2 linked regions of the Homo sapiens genome follow. The protein of the gene in region 2 purifies or fractionates together with the protein of the main gene of each other region. This does not show direct contact. Each region holds a gene or a part of one and is shown on either strand. Other genes may lie near its edges.

The links. Proteins that work in one complex are often made in the same cells at the same time.
Region 1: the proteins of HOXD11 (region 2) and PRKD1 purify together in Homo sapiens (affinity purification with mass spectrometry; one large-scale study listed by BioGRID and IntAct). This does not show direct contact.

What each region holds. Positions count from the first base shown.
Region 1 is NC_000014.9:29,599,348-29,602,847, forward strand, and holds part of PRKD1 (serine/threonine-protein kinase D1), read right to left. Parts: intron 471-3,500; coding exon 309-470; intron 1-308.
Region 2 is NC_000002.12:176,104,987-176,110,719, reverse strand, and holds HOXD11 (homeobox protein Hox-D11), read right to left. Parts: upstream 3,441-5,733; 5' UTR 3,365-3,440; coding exon 2,584-3,364; intron 1,814-2,583; coding exon 1,578-1,813; 3' UTR 966-1,577; downstream 1-965. UniProt on the Homo sapiens protein: Sequence-specific transcription factor which is part of a developmental regulatory system that provides cells with specific positional identities on the anterior-posterior axis.

The DNA.
Region 1 (3,500 bases), on a different chromosome or scaffold from region 2:
ACCTATATCTAACAGGGACACCCATTCTTAAATATTCTCAAAGAACCAAAACTAAACCAATGTACATTTTAAAATTTCATGAAAAGTTTGAATACATGGACCTGCAAACATGTTACTAATTTGGTACACTGTGGACTCTGATTAATATAGATATAAATCACATAATACAATAAAGCCACTACAACCTTTTCTAGTGTAGTTTAGACTGGAGGTAGGGACTAAACAACAAGGCTAGAAAGCTGTAGTTAAACAGTGATAACATTTGATATTAAATATTGTATTTTTTCCGTCTCTAATTGATTTCTTACCTGAGTAATTAAAAACTTCGTTATGTGCTCTGGCAACCTGCCCTTTTCACTTGACAAGATCATTTCCAGCATGTCTCCATGGAGTTTTTCCATAACAACAAACACTCTTTCAGGCGTCTCAAACATACACTCCAAATTTACAACACCAGGGTGATGAAGGTTCTATTAAAGATAAATAAAGCACTTGAAGAAAATGAGTTTTTTGATACTGTTTGGCAAGCTCGCTGATTATACAAAACTGTTCAAGCTTAGAGCTATAGAGAAACCCACACTTAAGATTTTTAACACCTCTACATTCCACATGTGCTGCCTTATATTTTTGAAATTCTAATGTCTCCAAAAAATACATCTTTACTTTCTATGCGTAGTGAAATTATTTCTATGTGAAAAAAATCCAAGTTCTAGCACAGTGAATTGCTAATTAGGTTTTAATTAGAATACCATATTGAGAAATCTATAATTTCTTAGGATCATCCCCAATATTAAACATATTGTCCTAACTAAGCATACTAGGCTATTTATATACAATTGGTAGAAATCTAATGTAGTAAAGATGAAATTCATACATGTAGTGCATCGGGCCATGCACTGATTAAGTACCTTAGTCAAAACCTTTTAGAAATGCTTTGCTACTGGTACTGGAGGCTGCAGTTTTTGACAGAAACTCTTATACTAAGTGAAGATCATAAAAATAGCAACAAAAAAAAAGTGAGCCTGTGCTTTGTCTACAATACCATCCTACCTGCTTGGTTTTCAAGCACGCAATAAATATAGCTAATCCTTGAGAAACACAAATTTGAACTGTGTGGGTCCACTTACATGTGGATATTTTTCGATAAGTACAGTTGGCCCTTGGTATCTGTGGGTTCTGCATCCACAACCAAGTGAGTATTGAAAATACCGTGTTCACCGGATCCAAAAACCTGAGGATGAGGAGGACCAACTTTTCCTAGAGGGAAGTTCTGCAGAGCCAAATGTGGGATGTAAGTATGCGTGGATTTTGATATGTGGTGCGGTGGTTCTGGAACAAATCCCATGCGGATACCAAGGGACTGCTGTCTTTCCACAATAAAGTAATGACTAGTAATGGTAAGCAGCATTTTGCTTGACACATTAATTGCCACATGTCAAGTAAAATTACGCTTAGCATTAGACGATCTCTTGTAATAATGCTTAAATCTGAACGTTCTTCTGGGTCATCAACAAATGCCTTTGATCATTTGACCTTTACCTTTTTTCTCTGCACAACAACAAATCCTAACATTAAAAAAAAATTATATATTCCACTTATATCCCAATGAGCAAGAGAAGAAAAATCATCATGAACAAAAACCACCTAAACAAAAAAAGCAGGAACTAACTTAAATGTGCTAACAGCTGAAGAGAGAAAAAAATTAAATGCTTCTTTATTTTAGAAAAAAAAATCTCAGTGATAAAATTGTACGTAAAATGAAATTTAAAACCTCAAATGGCTCACTGCTCAGAAACCTCACAGATGGATGCTGGGTGGTGAGCAGCAGAAGGGGTTGTGGGTGAGTCTACATTGTTGTAGTTGTCCTCTCACTACCCATTTGCAAGGAAAGCCTGGCATCAACTGGATATAGAACCAGGAGCTCTGATGATGATAACTCATTTCTTAGAGAGTCCTTTTTCTACTTTGCCTGTTTTGATCTCTGCCTCAGGCATCTGATGGGTCTCTTTGATTCTGATGCCTTGGGTCAAATCATACAGCATAATGGAGTCATGGAATTGCAAGTTTATTATGAATGTGATCTGAGCAGACGCCTACACATCTACCCAATAGCCTTTAACCTCTAAAGGGCTAGAGTCATTGTTCTTCAAACCGTTGCACTGTTAACTGGTCAAGTCTGGCAACTTCGAATAGACCTCACCTCCCACGTTGCTCTCTCCTGGTCAGAGCTGAAGCACATGGAGATAGTTGGGGTTCACAAAGCTCATATTATCAACCCTCTTACTTTACTTTTCCTGATTACTTGCAAATAAGAGCAGATAGCCAGATGGCTTTGAGTATTATGGGAGGGCCAGAGGCTAAGGAGGCGACTAATATGACGACATACACTTGTTTGATAGGCACTATGGAACATGTGATAGTATTGTTCATACTTGAACTTGTGTCCCAGGCTGTCTCATTTCCTTTTCCTTACATGCCTTTCCCTGTTAGAGAAGCCAGACTGACTGCACAGACCACTGGCCTCTGAAGTGTCAAAGGTCTCAGCTGTTCTCTTTTAATCAATAATCACAGCACGAGCTTTAAGGATTACATGAGTTCGGCTAGAGTTCTGATTCTCCTAGGACAAGTCCACTATGATATGTGCAAAGTACACGTTCCTCTTTGAGCATCTTCATTGATTCTTTTATTTTTCTATTTAATATAACTGTAAGCACTTAAGCAGTGTTCTGGGGAGTCTGGCTTCCTTAAATGGCTAAGCTTTGCAGTACGGGTGGGAAGCAGAAGCAATGAATCAGAAAGGAGCAGAGCAACAGAAGTAGACAGGAAGGGTAGGTGTCCTCTGTGTGTAGGCAGACGAAAAACTAGTAGGAACAAGAGATAAGCGTTAAGGGAGAGTGACCTCGGGGGCCCAGGGAGGGCAGGGGTCACGGGAGTAGTATTGGAGCTGCACAGCCTGCTGCTTCTGCTGATCTTAGATTCTGAAAGTTGGAGAAGAGGGGAGAGACGCAATGACTGGGGAGTCCTCCTACCTAAATTATCTGAATGATATGAATCCTTATGTGCCTCTACCTGTATTCCTCTTTTTTTTTTTTTTTTTGTTTTGACGGAGTTTCACTCTTATTGCCCAGGTTGGAGTGCAATGGCAAATCTCGGCTCACCACAACCTCTGCCTCCCAGGTCCAAGCGATTCTCCTGCCTCAGCCTCCCGGGTAGCTGGGATTACAGGCATGCACCACCATGCCTGGCTAATTTTGTATGTTTTGTAGAGATGGGGTTTCTCCATGTTGGTCAGGATGGTGTCTAACTCCTGACTTGAAGTGATCCGCCCACCTTGGCCTCCCAAAGTGCTGGGATTACAGGCATGAGCCACTGCACCTGGCCAGTACATGAGTTCTTAGAGGTACTAAAGTCCTTCACTCAATTTATTCCTTTTTCCTACTCCACAACATGACCTGAGGTGCCCCTGTACAGAGGGTAGAACTTTAATACATGTTTATTTC
Region 2 (5,733 bases):
TGTGAGCATGTATGTGTGAGAGTGGGTGGCAGCTGAAAATCAAGAAGAACTTAAGGCGCCTAATTATTCAGAAAGGTTAAAGGTGATGACCTTGACATTTTGGAAGTTCAAAGGCATACATTTATGCACTTATTTTTTCCTTCCCAAATAAGGCTTAGCAATTTTTTTAATTGCATTTTGAAGTGCATGACTCCTTGGAAGATGCATGGGGTACTGTGCATTTATAGATTTATATTTTGTCTTTGGGCTTAGGAGAGGTTAAGACTCATAAGATTCACTTCACTCTTTTCAGAGAGAGAGCTTTTCTCACTTCTCCAGTTTATTGCACATTGCGGAAATCTCTTTTGGGCCCACCAGAAGGTGTATAATATAACCCAATTAAGCTGTTTAGAACTTTGGCTTTTATGGTGTTGTCTAGACAGTTCAAGGTTTTGTAAACAGCCTGGCCTGGCCCTGCAACATAAAGTGCAGTAGAGCCCTCACCACATTCTTTAACTTGAAGCGATAAATGCCGTGAGAGGGTCTGCAGCTCCTGGCCCTATTTCAGTGGGGGCGGGGAGGGTTTACCTTCCCTACTCCAGGTCCACTTATGACACCAGCAAGCCCTCTCCACCTACTGATGACTTCCTTTTCGAAAACTTCTCCCTTCAATGGAAGTTTCTAATTTTGGTTTCTTCTTTTTTAAGGGACTGTGACTCCTTGTTAGCTTGTAAGAGATCATTTGGATTTTCTAACCAGTTTTTAAAAATGGTTGCTGTCTTTTCAGAAATCCCAAGTTCACTAGACTAGTGGTGGGGGTGGGAGTTTTCTTCTTAGGTTCCTGCTGCCCCAGCCTTACTGCCTGGAGAAGGCAGCGCCAGCATTGCTTGGTCACATCGTCAATTCAGAAATTCATCACTAACATGATTTTTAAAACCAGTGTAACCTAGAGGTGGTGGGAGGGTACGACTACTATTTTAGTGGGACTAAAAAGTATTTCATTCGATTTTCAGTTGCATGGGTTCTGGCCACTAAAATATCCTAAGGAGGCACTAAACCTCAAAGAGGAGAATTCATACAGTGTATTGAAGCTGTAACCTCCATTTTACTAGAAACCATTTATTCACACAAAAAAAGACAGTGACTCATGCCTTGATATGACAGACTAAAAGTACATTTCCCAAAGTTTAAATAACCTGCATTCACCGAAGAGGAAGGAAGGGATCTCTTAAAACTCAGAGCAAAACACCAGCGCCTTCTAGCAACCCCCAACCCGGCCCAACTTCCTACAGACCCCGCCGTGTCCCCACGAGGACTCGGAGAGGGGGAGGGGGAACGACAGCACACTGGCGGTAAAATTGTAACGGGACGTTTGCATTTACCATTTTCCCCTTATTAGGATCCGCTCGGCCAAGTCCCGGCCTCGTCCGCAGGCTGCAGTGGTCGCTGGGAGGTCCCGAGTTGACCGTGGGAAGGAATCGTGAAGTTCCACAGAGAAGAGACGTCATTAAACCCAAGGACAGTGGGCCTGCGGAGAGCAGGCTGGTGGGAAGGAGGGTGGGTGAGTGGGGCTGGGGTGAGGGCGCTTCCTGGAGCTCTCAAAATAAGGGGTTTCCAGTGAAATACTGCAGACGGTCTCTGTTCAGTTTCTTTTCTTTCATCCTGCGATTCTGGAACCAGATTTTGACTTGCCGGTCAGTGAGGTTGAGCATCCGAGAGAGTTGAAGTCTTTTCTCTTTGTTTATGTACACGTTAAAGAAAAACTCGCGTTCCAGTTCGCGGATCTGGTACTTGGTATAGGGACAGCGCTTTTTCCGGGACCGCTGGGGGGCAACTGCAAGGCAAAGAGACCAGGGGGTGAGAGAGGCCGCTGCCTGACAGCCCCCACCCGCCCGCCCGCCCGGGCCACTGAGCGAGGGCCAGGCCCTGGCCCCGTTGGGGACGTTCTCTGCCGCGGCCGAAAGGCCCTGCCTGCGTCGTGGGGGATGATATATGGGCGGGCACAGGAGAGAGTGCGGGCGTGGACATGTGTTCACGCCCGGACACACACACACACACACACACACACACACACACACACAGAGCCTGGCACGGAGGTGGGGAAGCAGAGGGCAAGGCAGGCTCTAAACTGGAACCTGAGGGAACAGAGACAAGAGCAGGCCCGCCGGGGCATCTGCTTGACTCCAGCGGCGCGCGTCAGCTAGCGGCTTGGATAAAGTCCAGTGCAAGGATCAAACTCCCCCCACTTCCCCACCCCCCGCCTCTCTCCCTTAAAAGCAGGAGGCTCCGGTGTATGCACTCACACTGGCTTGAAATCTCCCTCCCTCCCTCCCTCCATGGTATCTAGCAACCCCCTGCCCAAAACTGGGAAAAGGCTCTCGACAGCTATTAATGTCCTCCTCGAAGTCTACCTTAAGCCCACCTAAATTGGTTTCCTACCATAAACACACTTTACAACGGCCCAGGAAATCTTATAGGATGTATAAACCTCTTCGAATGCTTATAAAGTAGCACATAAAAAGGCGCAAGCAGAGGGAGGCCTCCGCCCCCCCCCCCTCCCCCGCGGCCCCCGGGCCCACCGCTTGCCCAGTACCCGGTGCCTACCTGCGCTGCTGCTCTTCTCGGCCCCCGCCTCTCCCGGGGGGCCCTCGCCGTCGCCACCGCTGCCTTCTGCTGCCCCCTTGGGCTCCGAGCCAGGGGTCGCCTTGGTGCAGGGACTGCCCCCGCCGCCACCAGCCCCGGTCCTGGGGTCGCCCTTGTCGGCTGCGCCCTCGGGCTGTGGCGGCGCGGGTGGCGGCGGGGGCTGCGGCCCGGCGAACGGGGGCCCGGGCGCTGCCTCGTAGAACTGGTCGAAGCCCTGTGGCAAGATGCCATTGCGGCCCACCGCGCTGTAGAAGTTGGAGGCGGCGCCCGCGGGGCCGTGCGGCGGCCCCGGCGCAGCGCACACCGGCTCAGGCGCCTTGAAGAGCACGTCCGGCCGGCGGCCCGCGGGCGGGAGAAGCTCGCGTTGCATGGCCGCCTCCTCGGCCGCCGCGGCCGCCGCAGCCGCCGCCGCCGCCGCCGCGTAGTAGGGAGCGTAGCCCCCCGCGCCGCCGCCGCCCCCGCCGGGGCCGCCCCCGCTGCTGCCGCCCCCCGCGCTGCCGCCGCCGCCGCCGCCGCGGTACGGCCACTTGGCGCGCTCCAGGCCGTAGTCGCGGAAGGCCACTTCGCGCACGGGCTGGACGTGCGGAGCCAGGTTGGAAGAGTAGGGGAAAGTCATCTGGCAGGACGACGGTTGGGAAAGGAACGAAGGCTTGCTAGCGAAGTCAGACGGGGCCACATAGTAGGCGCAGCCCGGCAGGTACATGCTGGCTGCGCTCTGGCCGCACTCGTCAAAGTCGTTCATGACTCCGCGGCGTGCGCGCCAGCGAGCCTCTGGCCGCTCCCCGCGCAGCCAACCTGAGCCATCGATTGCACAAGAGGCTTGGGCCAGGATCAACTAAGCAAAAATCCCCACCGGGCGCTGACGTGCAATTCATCTTGATTGATTCTGGTGGTAATTATGTCACGTGACGCCATGAAGAGAAATGTCCTTATATCTATATCAACGCTCGCCAACACGCCCCGGGACGGCTCCTGGCGCCGAGACGCGCGCGCTGGGGGCGGATCGGCTGCCCTCTGCCGCCAGCTCTCCCCGGGCGCTCCCTGACCAGGCTGCGCCTCAGGCCGGTCACCTGCGCGCCGCTGGCCGCTGTCACCGCTGGGCGCATCTGCCACCGCCCGAACGGGCCGCCCGCCCGCGTCCGCCCTCCCGCGCCGCTTTAAGTACGCGGACCGAGGCCGGCGGGGAGGAGGAAGGAGGGGGAAGAGGGGGAGGAAGGGGGAAGGGAGAGAAGCAGCGAGCAGAGGGGGGGAAGCCCCGGCTCCAGGCTCCCTAGAAGCTAGGAACTAGGTGTGAGGGTGTGAGGTTCCGAACCCCACCCCCCTTACTGCAGCCGCTCCCTCCCCCGCGACTCTGCCACCCTCTGCAGCTCACCCGCCTGGGAGCTTGTTGCTTCTTGTTCACCGGGCGGGAGTAATTTCGCCACTCTCCAGGGCGCAGGGAGCCCTGATTTACATATTTTTCTGCCCAGCGCGTTCAGAGTGGAGTGACTTGGCTCTTTCCGGTTCTGACCCCAAGGGTGCGAGTGCTGGCCTCGGAAAAACCCAGGCCATTCACCACCTAGGCACTCACCCAGGCCGGGGCCTTCGTGCCCACCCGGCTCTCTTCCCTTCTCTCTGGTTTCCCTCTCTGTTCTTGTCTCTCTTTCTCCTTGCCTCGTTTCTCTTCAGTCTTCTCCCTTCTCTCTCCTGTCTTCACTTCTCTCCTTCCTCTTCTTTTCCGCTTTCCTTCTTCCTTCCTCTTGCTTTCCTGTCTCCCTTCTCCTCTCTCTCTCTGTCCTCTCATCCTCTCCCCTCCTTTCCTCTAAGCTGTGTGTCACTGTCTCTGTCTCTCTCCCCGTTGCCTCTCTGCCTTCTCCTTCAGCACTGAAGCCAGGAGGGGGCTCAGCCCGTGGTCCCCAGCCTCCCTAGAATCTGGGGAGTCTGGTGAACAAAAGGATCTGGAGTCCTACTCTTAGGGTGCTTGGCTTCCCGCTGGCTCCCCACAAGAGACAACCCCCACACACTCGCACCTTCGTCCTCCTCACCCCTCTGCTTTCAGGCCTAGCCTGGGTGTCCGCCTTATACCTAGACCCTTCACTGCTTCGGAGCCCCGCCAAGGCCTGCGAATCCACGCCGCGTTTCCCCGAGGCTCTTCTGGTACCCTTGGGTCTGCATGGTCACTTCAGCCCCTCCCCCAAGATAGGTTGTCTCTCTAAGGGCTCTCAGCGGAGCCTGACTCCCTCCTGGAGCCCCTCTGTGTCACCTGGCTCTGAGGCAGACTCTTCGTGGGGCACCCCATCCACTCCCCCAAGGCCTCACTCTCCTCCCAGCCTGCCGCGACCCTCTCCTAGCCCATGGGTCCAGGCAAGGCCTGGGATCCCACCTCCGAGTGAGCAGACGCTTTTCAAAGGTAAACCGTCTCTTCCCAAACCCAAATCCCAGAACCGAGGGCAGGAGGCTGCCCCTTTCCCCAAGATTCCTCCGCCCAGGCAATCCCAGCGCTGGGGCCTGGGCCTCAGTCCTATACCCAGGGCAGGCGGCGCTGGCTGTGATGCTGGTTCCCTCCCTGGCCCGGGCTGCTGCAGTGCCGGTGCTGTGCGCTCTGCCCACCGTGCGGACAGACAGAGAAAAGGCGGGTGGTCTGAGCTAATATCTATTTTCTGGCTGATGTACCCCCCCTTCCTCTTTTTCTCCTCCCTCCCTTTCTCCCTTCCTCTCTCCTTCCTCCGCCCCTTCCCATGTCTTCTTCCCTCCCCCAACACTGCGCAAATAGGTCTGTGGCGACTGGAGGGCATCGAGCCTCCCCCAACTAGAACTGCCCATCTTGTGTGCTCCCTCCCCGCAGCTGGCACCCCCGCCCAGATTCCAGCTGACATTCTTCTCCTCAACCCAGACCCCCAGCACACTTATCTGCCTCCCCATCTCCATCCCAGGCCCAAGCCTCTCCCTTTCGGGCTCGTGGTCGACGCCCCTGGATCTCTCTCCTAAAATGGCTCCCTGGACGCTGCACACTGGCCCTGCGGTAGCTCAGGACCCAGGGCAGCTGCGAGGACTTCAACCCGGGTCTTTATGTGTCTGGGGATTCGCAAAATTCTCGCACCTTCTCTCTACTGGCGGCACGGGGTGGGGTGC